Regions from separate parts of the Homo sapiens genome. Here region 1 is linked to region 2. The links come from fine-mapping of genetic effects on plasma protein levels. A gene starts in region 2. The other region holds a variant in brackets. All regions are shown on one strand. Distances are between the middles of the regions. Region 1 overlaps ART3 (ADP-ribosyltransferase 3 (inactive)). Region 2 holds the start of CXCL11 (C-X-C motif chemokine ligand 11).

Evidence for each region. A credible set is the group of variants that fine-mapping cannot tell apart. PIP is the posterior inclusion probability: the model's chance that the variant is causal. Protein levels are from antibody-based Olink assays in UK Biobank. Linkage for the fine-mapping came from a reference panel and not from the study's own genotypes, which makes the PIPs less certain.
Region 1: its variant is the best candidate, but not a certain one, in a credible set for the plasma level of the CXCL11 protein (UK Biobank, PIP 0.86).

What each region holds. Positions count from the first base shown.
Region 1 is chr4:76,076,705-76,082,242 of GRCh38, forward strand. It overlaps ART3 (ADP-ribosyltransferase 3 (inactive)), which reads left to right. Exons shown (of 12, transcript NM_001130016.3): 3 at 5,120-5,538. Among named protein-coding and RNA genes, the nearest start is that of ART3, 4.8 kb to the left of the region's middle. The variant G/C (reference allele first, on the strand shown) is at 2,705.
Region 2 is chr4:76,034,087-76,039,086 of GRCh38, forward strand. CXCL11 (C-X-C motif chemokine ligand 11) reads right to left here and starts at 1,984. Exons shown (of 4, transcript NM_005409.5): 1 at 1,841-1,984; 2 at 1,130-1,256; 3 at 961-1,033; 4 at 1-730. The coding sequence starts at 1,901. The coding sequence ends at 707. It also overlaps a transcript of ART3 not described here and the pseudogene RPL36P8.

The DNA of each region.
Region 1 (5,538 bases), 43 kb after region 2:
TGTTTGATTACATGTTTTTTAATTAATGACCATTTTCCCACATTTTTTTTCTGGCAGAACTTTTATGATTTTATTTGCAATTGACTCTTTAAGCATCCTGTAACATATTTTTATGTAAAATATAATATTTCACTTGATTTTTTTTCCCCACGTTGTTAGCTGCCACATTACTTGTGGGTATTTGTGCACCATTTTAGATGCCTTTTTAAAAATATCTTAAATTCTTAAACTGTTATCCTTTTTTGAATTTAATATTCTAATCCATTTTCTATAGAATCATTGTGTATCCTGTTTCCTGTGTCGCAGTATGTTTTTTATTGAAATATAATTTACATACCATAAAAATTCACCATTTTTAGCTGTATACTTCAGTGGTTTCAGTATATTCATTATGTTCTGCAACCATCACCACTATCTGATTGCAAAACATTTCCGTCAACCCAAAAAGAAACCCTGTACTTATTAGCAGTCAGCCCCAATTTTCTCCATCCCCCATTCCCTGGCAACCACTGTCTACTTTCTGTGTCTATGGTTTTGCCTATTCTGGATATTTCGCCTAAATGGAATCATACAATATGTGACCTTTTGTGTCTGGCTTCTTTCACTTAGCATAATGTTCTCAGGAGTCCTATCAGTACTTCATTCTTTCTTATAGCCGAGTAATATTCTATTTTATGGCCGTACCGCATCTTGTTTATCCATTTATCAGCTGATGGACATTTGGGCTGTTTCCACTTTATGGCTATTACGAATAGTGGTGTTGTGAACATTTATGTACAAGTTTTTATGTGAACATGTGTTTTATTTTTCTTTTTAAAAAATTTTCTAATCATATAGTCTTGACATATTGAGATACTACAAACACTATTTGGTTATTTGGTAGCATTACAGAGTAAAGTTTACTTATATATAGGAAATATATATGTAAGAATGAATTTGGGGGTTATGATTTATGATTCATAGCAAAATTACCTATTGTTGTGAACATGTTTCACTTCTCTTGGGTGTACACCTAGTAGTGGAATTGCTGGGTTGTACGGTAATTTTATGTTAACTTTTTTAGGAACTGCCAAACTTTTTCACACTAGCTGCATGGTATTACAATCCCACCAGCAGTATATTAGGATTCTAATATCTCTGCATCCTTGTGTTACATGTTACTTGGTTTTTCATCATTTATAGCCATCGTAGAGGATATGAAGTGGTATTTCATTGTGGTTTTGATTTGGTTTTCAATATACTCTTGCAACATAATTTAAGTGTATTTGTTCTGTAATTGTTTCATGATTTGCTTAGCCAGTTTCTCTCCTTGACCTTTAGGTCATTTCCATATTTTTGTAAGAAATTTTTGGTAATTGAATTTCATTAGTATGGGCTTTTTTTCTCGGTGGTTATATCAGAGAAATATAATCAGCTTGTTCACCTAGCCTTTTGTACCTGTTTTTTAGTATCTGTTCAGTTGTCCCTGAATAGTGGTGGCATTTATGAACTTTGTCACTGCTCAAGGCACGCACCATACAAAATACACAATCAGCTATGGTGTCTGGCCAGAAAGACTTGATGTCTAAAATTAGACATTTGGAGACTGGTTAGAGGCATAGGGAAAAGACAGGAACATAGTAGATCAACTCTGATATAATGTAAGGAATGTGGGAGGTGTTTTCAGGGTCTGGTGTCTTATACGGTGTTGAAGTCTTGAAGATAAATCAGGCATTGGCACCCAAGCTGCACTCTGGTACATTCTGTGCTGTGGAGGAAAGTGCATTTCTTGGCTATGAGATGGCAGTGATTTGATCTCCTGAAGCTCAAATTCCCATGTCAGGAAACTGACCTACAAACCCAGGACTACGGGGGTCTTAATGACTTCCATGGCAGAATTCTCTGTGGCTAGTAATCAAGATAGTTTCTGAAGCTGGCACAATTCCCTCGTTTGTAAAATGGTGTTAACTATTTTTTGTTAACCTTTTATAAATGTTGTAATGAAGACAGAATTACACTCTTTTTCAAGTGCTACATAAATGTCCATGGTCTTCATAATTGGAAACATTCTGATTCTTTAGAGGCAACAGAACAGTTTGGTTAAGAGGACAAGACGGCCGGGCACGGTGGCTCACGCCTGTAATCCCAGCACTTTGGGAGGCCGAGAAAGGCAGATCACGAGGTCGGGAGATCGAGACCATCCTGGCTAACATGGTGAAACCCCGTCTCTACTAAAAATACAGAAAAATTAGCCGGGCGTGGTGGCGGGCGTCTGTAGTCCCAGCTACTGGGGAGGCTGAAGCGGGAGAATGGCGTGAACCCGGCAGGCGGAGCTTGCAGTGAGCCGAAATAGTGCCACTGCACTCCAGCCTGGGCGGCAGAGCGAGACTCCGTCTAAAAAAAAAAAAAAGGACAAGACTCTGGAATTAGACTGCCTGAGATCAAATTCCAATTCCATGTAAGTCTCAATCTCTTAGTTTCCTCATCTTTGTTAAAAAAAAAAAAAAAAAAGGCGGGGGGCTAATAATAGTACCTACCTCACAAGGTTGCCGAACACTTAGTGCCTGGCATATAGAAAGAACTCTGGAGATGTTTGTTAAACTTAGTGATAGAGTGTCCACCCAGTGTGTCTGAGAAGGAAATATGTAGGAAAAGTTCACAAATGAAAAATGGTTTTAAATAAGAACCAGGTCGTTGTGGCTGTACGATTGTAAGTTTCGTCTTA[G/C]ACATGTTACGTATGAAGGTTCTTTGAACATTCAAGTGGAGGTGTTAAGTAGGCAGATAAATTTGATATATAGGACTGGCACTTACAGGATAGATCAGATATATTTAGATCATAATTGAAACTGTAAGCATGTATATAACTGCCTGGGGAGCGTAGAGTTGAGAGTTAGAAAATACGTAGCCTTGAGGAACTCCAACATTTAATGGCTAACTGGAATATGTTGGGTCTGCAAAAGAGTCTAAGAAGAAATGCTCCCTTAAGTGAGAGCTGTTTGGGTGGAGAAATGGGTGGGAAGCCATAATGGGGAGGGTTGAGCTATACGTGGGAAATGAAGTGGAGATGGCAAGGACAGACATCTCTTTCAAGATGTTTGTTCGTGAGGGAGAGAAGAGAGATGGGAAAGGAGATACCTAGAGCAGGATATGGAAGCAAGTTTTGTTTTGCGTTTACAAGTTAGTATCTCTGTCTCTCTCTCTCTGTCTCTCTCTCTTTCACTCTCTCTCTCTCTCTCACACACACACACAGAGAGAGAGAGAGAGAGAGTTTTTAAGTATCATTCACATAGAACCTGTAACTTTTTTTTTGAATCTGTAACTTTAACAGCTTCTAGCTAAATATGTCTATAAAGTCTCCAACTGAGGTCCCTAAGCAGACTTATGCAACTATGCACCATACAAGTATAGACTAATGGAAGAGGCATTATCCTTTTATTTGTAGAAACTCATAAATGGTATTCCTGGGGAGATTTGATCATCTTATTTTTTGATCCATAAGCCAGAGTACAGGGTTCTAATGTAGTTCACTTGAATATTTTGCCAGGTTCTGTGCTAGGTGTGTAGGATTCAAAGATAAAAACGATACAGACCGTACCCTTAAGGATCTAACAGTATAATACATATATTCCTAGCATGAAATAATACAAAAAAACCACATCACACTGGAGAAAGACCTTATGAAAAAATAATAATAACCACGGCATGTTAAAGACTTGATATGTGCCAGGCATGGGGCAGAGGGCTTTGCATATGTTCATTACATAATTTAATTCTCACAGCCATCCCACAGTTAAATACTATTTCCTCCACTTTGTCTTCCTTTTTTAATTTATTTTTTATTTTTTGAGATGGAGTTTTGCTCTTTTGCCCAGGCTGGAGTGCTGTGGTGCAGTCTCCGCTCCCTGCAACCTCCGCCTTCTGGTTTCAAGCGATTCTCCTGCCTCAGCTTCCTAAGTAGCTGGGATTACAGGCGCCTGCCACTACGCTCAGCTAATTTTTGTATTTTTAGTAGAGATGGGGTTTCATCATGTTAGCCAGGCTGGTCTTGAACTCCTGACCTCATGATCTGCCCGCCTCGGCCTCCCAGAGTGCTGGGATTACAGACATGAGCCACTGCACCTGGCCTTTTATCCTAATTTTTTTTAAAATTGAAAACTTGAGGATTAGAAATGTCAAGTAACTTTCCCATACCTAGTTAGTAACAAATGGGATTTGAACTCTGATCTGCCTGGCTTCAAAGTGGTGTTAATTACATTACACCACCCTGCTTCTTATGTTATGTGAACATATGTATATGTATAATTTAGTTGTATGTGGTATTATGCCTCTTCAGTTGTATGTGACTGAAATACAGTTCAAACTAGCTGAAGCAAACAGGGAATTTATTGATTCTTACAACTGGTGAAGAGTACAGTTAGGCCCAGCGTCTAAAGTATGTTTTCGGGTCCTCATCTCTACCTCTCAGCTCAGCAAGCCTTATTTGTTGCTTTATTTTAAGACAGAATTCTCCATGGGACTAAAGAATAACTGTTGGAAGCCCTAGGCCAATATTATCCTTAGAGCTTACAGCTTTAGAGGAAGAAAGATCCATTTTTTTCCTCTGGGAGCTCTGATTGCTAGACTTTAGATCACCTGCTTATCCAGGAGGTGCAAAATCATTTCTACCCAGGCCATATGGACAAGGGAGGGGGCAACCCCAAAGGAAAAGGGTAATGTTTGTCATTATGTGTTATAGATCATGAATAATATTTTGCATATGATACTTCAAATTCCCAACAGCCTTGAAGGGTTGAAGAAATCTAGCTAAGATGTTCAAAGCCAGGACTGCCACCCATTTCTTTAGCTTCACATCCATTGTTCTTTGCTCTGTGCCATAATGTCCAGATAAATGAGCTACAGGCACAATCTCACCCATACCTCTCACCCACTGACATTTACTCTTTCACACAAATATGGCACAGCTGAGAAAAGTTATCAATAGCAATGGAATATACTTCCTGCATAAAAACCTACCCAAAATTGGTTATAAGTCAGGCGAGAATTTTGGCAAGGGATGAGAAGGTGGGGGTAATAATGTGAGAGAAAATGATATTCACTGAATTTCTTATTTCAAGAGTATTAATTTCTTTTTCCTTTGAAGGTGAAGGCTGAAGTGTTAGACATGGCAGATAATGCATTTGATGATGAATACCTGAAATGTACGGACAGGATGGAAATTAAATACGTTCCCCAACTGCTAAAGGAGGAAAAAGCAAGCCACCAGCAATTAGATACTGTGTGGGAAAATGCAAAAGCCAAATGGGCAGCCCGAAAGACTCAAATCTTTCTCCCTATGAATTTTAAGGATAACCATGGAATAGCCCTGATGGCATATATTTCCGAAGCTCAAGAGCAAACTCCCTTTTACCATCTGTTCAGTGAAGCTGTGAAGATGGCTGGCCAATCTCGAGAAGATTATATCTATGGCTTCCAGTTCAAAGCTTTCCACTTTTACCTCACAAGAGCCCTGCAGTTGCTGAGAAAACCTTGTGAGGCCAGTTCCAAAACTGTGGTATATAG
Region 2 (5,000 bases):
CCCATAGCGTATAATTTTTTTCATAGTACATTTTATGAATTACATTTAATGAATTGGTTATAAAACAAACCAAATGATGCATAAGAATGTCTCCCTACATATTGATGTGCTACATGATGTTTGGGGAAAGAAGTGTGTATTTGCATGAAAAAATGTTTGAGGAATGTTTTACGACACATAGATGCTTTTGACTTATAAGGGCTTGACTCCAGTAATAATGTCAATGTCTCCACCGTAACCACAGATAGTAATATAGCATAAAGATCAATACAGACAGATGACTTCTAGAGACAGAAATGTTCTCATAGTCACAACAGAATAGTTGTAAGCATCAAATCTAGAAGGTTCTCTAGCCTAGAAATGCATGAATGTATAATGCAACAAGTAAGAACGTGAAAGCACTTTGTAAACTCCGATGGTAACCAGCCTTTCTTAAGGTAGCTTTTCCTAGAAATCCATTTAATTGTTGGACTCCTTTGGGCAGTGGAATTCTGATTGTCATTCATTCAGGAAGACTGTATTTCTGTTTTTGGTCCTTTCACCCACCTTTCATCCTTCACATAACTGTACAAAAGTTGAAAGTCACAAAACCATAGAAAAGTCTCAGTTTCCTACTGTAGAATTCTTGTCATTTCAGTAGTCACAGTTAAACTTGTTCTAGGTTTTTCAGATGCTCTTTTCCAGGACTTCATATGTTTTGATATTTTTAAAAATTCTTTCTTTCAACTTTCTGGAATAAGAAAACAAGAGTTTTATTTACTTGGGCTGTTCTTGTTTCCCCCAGGACATCTAAAAACATGTAGTAAGAAGGGGAAGCTGTTACAACCAAGGACCCCTTAACAGAATATTTCACACAGGATCATAGCAGAATCTTTCTGTAGTTGTCCACATTATTTTCTTTTTCAAAAGATCTGTCTTGGATAAAACAGATTATAACATGGGAGTAATTTGGTAACTTACTTTGATTATAAGCCTTGCTTGCTTCGATTTGGGATTTAGGCATCGTTGTCCTTTATTTTCTTTCAGGGTAATACTGTTAAAAGAACATACAAGAGTCTTAAAGTTTAGATGCAAATACATAAACAAAAAAGCCTGCACCATTGTCATCTTCAGCAAGTTCATTACTTACATCACTTCTATTTTGTCACAGTTGTTACTTGGGTACATTATGGAGGCTTTCTCAATATCTGCCACTTTCACTGCTTTTACCCCAGGGCCTATGCAAAGACAGCGTCCTCTTTTGAACATGGGGAAGCCTAGAATAGATCATAGCATTAGTTAGTAATGCATCTGATTGCAACAGATGGCTGTGGTTTATAGCTGGTGGTGAACGTGAGCAGAATTTTCATTAAGGGTAAAGATAGTAATTTGTCAAATAGCACTTAACACAACTGTTACTGGGAAAAGTTAAGTAAGATGTTGATTATTTTCTCATTAAATTAGTAAGCAAATCGCTAACAAATGGGAAGCATGAAGGAAGTTTATTGGAGGTGAAGCTTGTTTTGCCCCCTTGATTTTATCCTCAAATATTTTCCCAGGAAGCTTGTTAACATGATCGCTATATAAAATCTTCTTAACAGACATTTAAAACTGTTGCTAAAGGCTTTTGCCAGATATTCTAGCCAAATCAAAAATTCCATGAAGTTCATAATTTCTAGTTTCAATAATCATCTCTAGTATCTTAAACATGTCCACCATTTCTGTGCTAAAGCTGTAGTAACTTCTAATCTGTGAGATTAAATAAAACTTTATCATGTCTTTTAGGATAAAAGTGGAAGAAAAGACATTTGAAACATTAGAAAAGGAACTTATAGGTTGAGAAATAAAAATTACTGCATACCTTGAACAACTGTAGCACACAATATCACAGCCAAGGCTATAGCCATGCCCTTCACACTCATGTTTGTTTTTTGCTGTTGCTGCTGGTGCTGCTGCTGCTACTTCAGCTTTGCTGCTCTTCTTGGAAGGAGTAGAAATGCTGAACATGAAAGGAAATTGATAATTGGCATATATAGAGCATTTTATACACCAGCAATCCTTTTATGGCACAGGAATTTCCCTCTTTGAGTCATGCACCTTTCCTGCTTCCAAGAGTTTCTGTTTTGTTCTCTTCTAAATGTTACTGTCCCTTCCTATTTGCAGTAGTGTTGAAAGTGATAAGAATGTGAAAGCACTGTGAAAACCCAGATGGTAACCAGCCTTCTTAAGGTAGCTTTTCCTAGAAATCCATTTAATTGTCGGACTACTTTGGGCAGCGGAATTCTGATTGTCATTCATTCAGGAAGACTGTGTTTCTGTTTTTGGTCCTTTCACCCACCCTTCATCCTTCACATATCTATACAAAATAATATTCTGAAAAGCTTTTTTTTATTATCTCACTTTTGCTTTTCAGTCCAAACTCTTATAATAGATAAGGCCTATATTATTTGACACCAGATGACCTTTATTCAATTTCATATTTTTACCTGTAAATGAGTGCCTAAAGAAGTTTCCCTGTGTTTCTGTATTTATGTCCATATTGTTTTGCATTTTCAACAATTTTTACTTTATATATTTTATTTTGTTTTGCTTTATTTTATTTTTAAATTTAATTTAATTTTATTACTTTATTTTATATTTATTTTATTCTGCAAAGCTTTCATTATAGGCAGATGGCAGGGGGCTCAGTCCTTCTTGGCAGCTGCTTTCCTCATGGCAGCCAGGACGTTGCTCAGCTCCTCCTGCCTTCTCTTGGTGCAGATGTTTGTCCCTACCCTTTTCTTGATGAATTTGAGGGCCTGTTTGACCTTGGAGACCTTCAGTAACTCCATGCCACGCCACTCGTTAGGGGTGAAGCCACACACCTCTGGGATCATGTCCCACACAAATTTAGTGAGTTTGGTCAGGCGCCCACAGTGGCTGTGCCTGGGCTTGCTCACATTCTTGGTCACCTTGTGGCCCTTGTTGAGGCCCACAGCTATAGGGTAGTGCAGTGTCATGGCTGCTGCCCTCCAATGGTGGCCATGGTGGAAAGCTACTTTATATATATTTTAGCACTGTTACTTAGTACATGAAGTTGTATGAGTTGTATTAGGGATCATAAAAAAAAGTGATCCTCTTTGCTCATGTGATAGTTTTACCTCTGAGATTCTACTTTGATGTAATTCCTATTTTTTTGTCTTTATCTTTTCCTCTTAAGCTTCCTAAATCTTTGTTTTAAGTGTGTCACTTGTAGATGTTTAAGAAAATCATATCAAAGGAGCTTTCTAATGGGTAAGCTTAATAAAATATATTTACTGTATAACTGGTAATCTGTAATTTTTAAAATGCTTCCTTGCTGATTCTTTATGTTTTCTTTGATTTCTTTCTAACTTTAAATATATTTTATTTAACTTTTTGAAGCCATTTTTGTTTTTTTTAATGAGATGGGTCTCACTCTGTCACCATTCTGGAGTCGAGTGGCACAATCATAGCTCACTGCAGCCATGAACTCCAGGCCTCAAGCAATCCTCCTGCCTTGGTCTCCCAAAGTGCTAGGATTACTGGGATGAGCCACGGTGCTTGGCCTTCCTTAAGTAATTTGAAAGGAATACATTGTTTTACATTTTGATATTAATTCTTAAAATTCTTTAAAAAGATTTTTACCTGAATTTTTCTAATTATTTACATCAACCATCAATAATATTTTTTTAGCTCCTGTCTTTGTAACATGAGAAAATCACTGTAACTTTCTTTCAAGAATTTTCTCCTATTTCCTAGTTTTACCAATAAAAGTTGGTATAATCGGGGAATTTATAGCCAGTTTATTACTTTTAGATTATTATTTTATCTTATTCAACTTCTTTTTTTGAGAATTATCATTTGCATTTTATCTTGAAATTATATATTTATTTAGATATAATCCTGCATTTAAATTCTTTAACAACCATGACTAGTCTTTAAAACCTTTGAAAGTCTTTACAGTAGTCCCCCATTAAATGAGAAATTCTAGAAATAATTCATAAGTTTTAAATTGTGCACTTTTCTGAGTAGCATGATGAAATCTCACATCATCTTGCTCCATCACTTCATCCCATCACATAGACATTTTATCATTTCACAGCATCACTAGAAGAGTGAGTATAGTACAATAAGATATTTGAAGAGAGAGAGACTACACAGTCACTTAACTTTTATTACAGAATATTGTTGTAATTATTCTATATATTAATGTTGATGCTCTTACTGTGGCTAATTTATAAATCAAACTTTTTTATAGGTATATATGTACAGGAAAAAATACAATATATACAGGGCTCAGTACTATCTGCAGTTTCAGGCACTCATTGGGGGTCTTGGAACATATCCCCCAAGGATAAGGTGAGGGGGCTACTGTATTTTAATTAATTTCCAAGTAGCTGGAATATTCTTTCCTTCTTTTCCATTAATTCATTTAACATATGTAAAGAAAGACTAATTTTCCCTCAGGAATATGGGTAAAGTAAAAGGAATGTGTTCTTGGAGCTCATAAATCCTTATCTGTTATTATTTTTTAATGTTGCTTTTCATTTTCTCAGCATTAGAAACACAGTAGAGCATAGTTGTTAATAGGGAAGGCTCTAGAGTCAGCCTGTGTTCAAATCCACCCTTGATTATTTATTTATTTATTTATTTATTTATTTATTTATTTATCTTTGAGATGGATTCTTGCTCTGTAGCCCAGGCTGGAGTGCAGTGGTGTGATCTCGACTCACCACAGCCTCTGCCTCCTGGATTCAAGTGATTCGCCTGCCTCAGCCTCCCAAGTAGCTGGGATTACAGGTGCGTGCCTCCATGCCTGGCTAATTTTTATAGTTTTAGTAGAGATGGTGTTTAGCCATGTTGGCCAAGCTGGTCTTGAACTCCTAACCTCAGGTGATCCTGCCGCCTTGGCCTCCCAAAGTGCTGGGATTACAGGCGTGAGCCACTGTGCCCAGCCCACATTCAGTTATTTATGAACAAGTTACCTCAACTTTTTGAGGCTATTTTCTCATCTATAGACT